Linked DNA regions of Homo sapiens. The protein of the gene in region 2 purifies or fractionates together with the protein of the main gene of each other region. This does not show direct contact. Each region holds a gene or a part of one and is shown on either strand. Other genes may lie near its edges.

The links.
Region 1: the proteins of ACOT6 (region 2) and KITLG purify together in Homo sapiens (affinity purification with mass spectrometry; one large-scale study listed by BioGRID and IntAct). This does not show direct contact.

Annotation. Positions count from the first base shown.
Region 1 is NC_000012.12:88,517,962-88,521,475, forward strand, and holds part of KITLG (kit ligand isoform b precursor), read right to left. Parts: intron 907-3,514; coding exon 736-906; intron 1-735. UniProt on the Homo sapiens protein: Ligand for the receptor-type protein-tyrosine kinase KIT. Plays an essential role in the regulation of cell survival and proliferation, hematopoiesis, stem cell maintenance, gametogenesis, mast cell development, migration and function, and in melanogenesis.
Region 2 is NC_000014.9:73,615,507-73,617,956, reverse strand, and holds part of ACOT6 (acyl-coenzyme A thioesterase 6), read right to left. Parts: intron 1,114-2,450; exon of another isoform or gene 964-1,113; coding exon 765-963; intron 1-764. UniProt on the Homo sapiens protein: Catalyzes the hydrolysis of acyl-CoAs into free fatty acids and coenzyme A (CoASH), regulating their respective intracellular levels.

The DNA of each region.
Region 1 (3,514 bases), on a different chromosome or scaffold from region 2:
CCTAAGCATGATTTTGCTATAGACACAGTGTGATGAAAAAACATCAAATTTTATTAATATTTATTTTGCTAGGTAGGGTGTTAAAGTACTCATGGCAAATAACCTAACGTCGACCCTGTTAGATGAATTCTGGCATTGCCCCCATTTTAAAGATAAAGAAAGTGAGGTACAAAGAAGTTACGCTCACAGAACTCATTAGCGACAGAGCCAGAATTTAAACTCCAATATCTCACTCTTATTTTCTGGAGTACATTGCCTATTCCATATGTCATGCCCATATCCTGAAGTTGGTGATGATCAGTTATCCAATGACTTTGAGGAGCCAAAATGTATTCCTTTGCTGTGACCTATGGGGTGATTACATTATGCATAAAAGGATATGTGTTTATTACAGACAATTTTCCATTTAAATGAACACTTGTAACTTAATAGAAAGGTTTCAAGGACTTCACTTATGAAGAATAAAGATAAAGGCAGGACTGATTTTGCATTGTAATGTAAATAAGTTTTATTTTTGTATTAGATGACAACATTTAAGTTTGAATGTGCACTTCAGTATTGCAGTATAACTGCAAATACTTGTTTTCTTTGCTCATCTGAACAAGATTTTTAAATTTGAAGTTTATACAATCAAAATATCATAAATAAAGGTGCCTCATTTTCCCCAACAGCACCAAGAAGCATGGGTTTTTAGAGAAGCGTAATGAAAAATAATCCCAATGAACACAAAGTTACCTTAGATGAGTTTTCTTTCACGCACTCCACAAGGTCATCCACTATATTCACAAGTTTGTCTATGATGGAATAATTACTCAAGCCTTCAGAAATATTTGAAAACTTGTCCAGAAGATCAGTCAAGCTGTCTGACAATTGTACTACCATCTCGCTTATCCAACAATGACTTGGCTGCAAGATATGAAAAAAGAGACAAAACAGCTATTTTAATAAGTAAGTGCCATAAAACTCGGAGTACTCTTCAAAGCTATCGTTTTAGTTACTCAAGTGATTCTCCTGCCTCAGCCTCTCGAGTAGCTCAGATTACAAGTGCCTGCCACCATGCCTGGCTACTTTTTTATTTTTAGTAGAGAGGAAGTTTCACCATGTTGGCCAGGCTGTCTCAAACTTCCTGACCTCAAATGATCCACCCGTCTCAGCTTCCCAATGTGCTGGGATTACAAGCATGAACCACCGTGCCTGGCCAGATTTTTAAAATTAATATTACATTACTTAAAATGTTGTAATAGGAGGACAGGGGTTATTGTAACAGGAAGAGAAGGGACTAGTGTGACAGGAGGAGGAGGGACTATTGTAATAGGAGGAGGGACTCTTGTAACAGGAGGAGGAGGTTGTAAGTTTGCATGCTTTATATGATTTTAATGTGTTATCTTTTCTCTTATAAAGATCTTTTAAGTGGAAACTCTGATGTATTTTGAACACTGCTGAAATGCTGCAGTGACAAAAATAACATTGTTATTAAGAATAACATTGAATTGGCTCATTAAAAGCACAAATAATTTAATACAACTTGTAACAAAAATATTGTACTCAGAGTAACTGATGTCATGGAAAATAAATCAAACTACTAAGCTTTATTTCTCTATTTACCAGCAGAATATCTCTGTGGGAAAAGTCAAGCCTTTTATTTATTTATTTATTTATTTATGCTTTAATTTTTTACAGAGACAGGCTCTCTCTCTGAGTCCTGGGCTGTAGTGCAGGGGTGCAATCATGGTTCACTGCAATGTTGAATTCCTGGGCCCAAGTGATCTTCCCACTTCAGCCTCCCAAGTAGCTGGCACTACAAGGCGCATGCTACCAAGTGTGGCTAATTTTTAATTTTTTTATATAAATGGGATCTTGCTTTGCTGCTCAGGCTGCTCTTGAACTCCTGGCCTCAAGCAATCCTCCCTCCTCAGCATTCTAAAATGCTGGGATTAGAGGCGTGAGTCACTGCATCTGGCTCAAGTCATTTATTTATTCTAAAGTATAGAAGGGACCACTTTATATTCATTTAACAGAACTGTTTTACTTAATATAATACAGCCAAAAAGGAAGCAGGTTTATCTGCAGATAGGTAAGCCCCAATTCCTGGAACCATTAAATGTCACTCAAAACTTTTAGGATTGTTGGCTCTGGCTTCAGATAAGAAGGATAAACAAATCTCAACATGGGAATTTAGTTCAAGTGGCCATTTCAACTCGTCATAACCAAGTTCTCAAAGAATATGTGTTTCCAAAGTATGTGCAGAACAGAGTCTTTGTTTTGTTAAATCAGTGCTTACTTCAAGCACATGCAAGTTCCTACTTGCATCATTATCAGGTCTCTTTCAAAGCTGTCAGTCTTTCCTTGGATGCTGAATTGCTCTGCAAGTTTCTTTCCTTTTAGGGAGTGATAATTCCTTATAGACCGTCAGCCCTATCAACAATGAACAGATTTCCTAGGATATGGAACACAGCATACACTGTAAATTGCTATTTGAATAGTATTTATGTGATAGAGTAGCTTTCACCAATTCATTCCGTTGAAATTGTGCAAATTTTTCTAACAATGAAATTCCAGGTATTAATCTCTTAGGACTCTATTTCCTCACTTTATGAGTATGCTTGCCTAGGATCTCTGGCAAGTAAGAACCAAAATCAAATTCCTTGTTTTGAATTAAGACATTCCTTTAGTTTCTGTGGTAGTTGTCTTATATGAATGGGTACTTTGTTCATTTTGCTTTTTTTTTGTGGTTAAAGTAGAAAATGTTTTGTTGATTTGTTTCTTATTTTTAAGCTGAGGAATTCTGGGGTACTTACTGCCACTTCTGTTGATCACTATTTTCAACCGAACTCTATGTTTACATTTTATATTCTAGTTCCTATTTAGCTATTACCCTACCTCCTCCCATTTTCACATAACTAAATCAACAGTCTAAACAATCAACTCTTTCCAGTAAAATTTCCAACCCCAATCCTGTGCTTTCTTAGAGTTAAACCATGGAAATTCCACAATCTAATCCTACTCTAATGTTTGCCCTTCTAAAGTCATGAACAATTTGTTGATAGTTGATATAAACTACGTGCCTACACAGCTGAAAAATCGTGTATTTCTAAAACACTTGTAATCATGTTTCACTCATTTTTTATTTTTGCTTGTGCTATTGTTTCTTTGGAAAAGGCTGAATCATAAATTCAAAGTTCTATTTTTCAGTAATTTGTTTAACCATGTATATATTGGCTTTTTAAGATTCTTGAGTTTATTAAAGATAAAATGAAGGTAAACAAATAATATTAAATGTCAGTCAGTTTTGATCTGCCTGCTTGTAAGAGAGGAAACTAGTTTTGACTGGAATGTCTAGCAGTTTTGTAATTTTTAATTAAATATCGTCAATGATTTGCAAGGAGAATAAAACACAATGAACTAAGTATTTCATTTGTGAGGTGATAGCAGGTCTTTCTGTTTTTCAATTCCTCCACGATTATGATTATGAAATAAATGATTAAAGATTGTCAAATTTACAAACGTACTTTTT
Region 2 (2,450 bases):
GCCAGGCTGGTCTCAAACTCCTGACCTCAGGTGATCTGCCCGCCTTGGCCTCCCAAAGTACTGGGATTACAGACGTGAGCCACCGCACCTGGCCAAAATGTTTTAATTAATTAATTATTTCTGTTATCAGATAAGGACTTTCTTTACAAAACCATAATACCATTATCATACCCAACAAAATTAATGATTACTTCATATAATCAAATACACCATTCTCATTCAAATGTCTCCAGTTGTCTCAAAAAATATCTCTTTATAGTCATTTTCTCTATATACATTTACATTAATCTTATTAAGGAGGAAAATTGAACTCCAGAGAGAGTAACTGCCTTATTCAGAATCATAAGGCCACTCTGTGGTAGATGCAGAGCTGGAACTTTTTTTAGTCCTGTGCTCTTTGAATTTTGGTCCACAATTACAAAGACAACTAAATAGTCAAGTCTTCAGGGATTAGAGAGAGATGGGAGAAAATGGAAATAATAATCCTAGTACAAAAACTTTTTTTGAGACAGGGGTCTCACTAAATGTTGCCCAGGCTGGTCTTGAACTCCTGGGGTCAAGCAATCCCCCGGCCTCAGCCTCCCAGGTAGCTGGGACTACAGGTGCACATCACCATGCCCAGCTTCCACCCTAGTAACCTTTGAAGGAGACTTGGTATCTCCTGGCATGTTTCTAGTTCTCAGTGTTCTGGCAGGGCTTTTGGATTCAGCCCTGCATCAGCTCTATCCCCTCTCTTCTGCACTCAGGTGATCACCAGAACGCACCTTTGGATGCTGCAGCATAAAGTCCACGGCTTCTTCAAAGTACTCCAGATGTACATCATTCAGATCTTCGGGGAGGTCTTCAAATCTGAAATAAGCCAGGGCAAGCACAGCAAAACCATGTCCGGCCAGGAGGCTGGCCCTGTATTCACAAAGGCCCCTGCTGCTCCCAAACAGATCAATGATCCCAGGAAAGGGCCCCCTGCCTGGAGAACATCACAAATCACAGGGAGCTTTAGTTTCTCAAAAGACAGTAAGCAAACAAGTTTTTGAAGCCAAGGAGATTGGGGGTAGAGAGATTGGCAGAGAAAGAACAAAATGTCTTATTTTCTCAAACAATAATGATAATATAGAGGGATAAAAAACTACATATTGGGTACAATGTATACTACTCAGGCGACAGGTGCACTAAAATCTCAGCGTTCATCACTGTACAGTTCATCCGTGTAACCCCAAACCACCTGTACACCAAAAGGTATTGAAATTAAAAAAAAAATTTTTTTTTGACAGTCTCACTCTGTCGCCCAGGCTGAAGTGCAGTGGTGCAATCTCAGCTCACTGCAACCTCTGCCCCCTGGGTTCAAGCAATTCTCCTGCCTCAGCCCCCCAAGTATCTGGAATTACAGACATGCAACAGACACCCGGCTAATTTTTTTTGTATTTTTAGTAGAGACTGGGTTTTGCCATGTTGGCCAGGCTGGTCTTGAACTCCTGACCTCAGGTGATCTGCCCACCTTGGCCTCCCAAAGTGCTGCGATTACAGGTGTGAGCCACCGCAACCGGCCTAAAACTTTTTAATGATATAAATTATTGTCACACCACTGCACTCCAGCCTGGGTGACAGAGTGAGACTCTATCTCAAAAATAATAATAATAATAATATTATTTTCACAAACAAAAATAAACCAAGTTAGAAATAACATAATGAGGCCAGGTGTGGTGGTTCATGCCTATAATCCCAGTGCTTTGGGAGGTCAAGATAAGAGGACCACTTGAGGCCAGGAATTCACGACCAGCCTGGGCAACATAACAAGACCCATCTCTACAAAAAAGTTTAAAAAACTAGCTGGGCATGATGGCACTTGCCTATAGTCTTAGCTACTCAGGAGGAAGAGGCGGGAGGATCATCTGAGCCCAAGAGTTCCAGTTTGTGGTGACCTGTGATCACACCACTGCACTGTAGCCTGTAGATCACTGTAACCTTGAATCCTTGGGCTCAAGTGACCCTCCAGCCTCAAGAAGCCACCCTCCCAAGTAGCTAGGCCCCTATGCTTGGCTAATTTTTAACTTTTTATAGAAATAGGGTCTCACTATGCTGCCTGGGCTAGTCTCAAACTCCTGGCCTCAAGCAATCCTCCCACTGCAATGCTCCCACCTCGGCCTCTTCAAGTGCTGGGATTTTAAGTGCGAGCCACTGCACTCAGCCTGTTTGTTTGTTTGTTTGTTTGTTTGTTTGTTTGTTGAGACAAGGTTTCACTCTTGTTGCCCAGGCTGCAGTGCAATGGTGCGATCTCGGCTCACTGCAACCTCCGTCTCCCCCCGGGTTCAAGCGATTCTCCTGCCTCAGCCTCCCGAGTAGTTGGTATTACAGGCATGTGCCACCACACCTGGCTAATTTTGTATTTTTAGTAGAGATGGGGTTTCACCATGTTGGTGAGGCTGGTCTCAAACTCCTGACCTCAGATGATC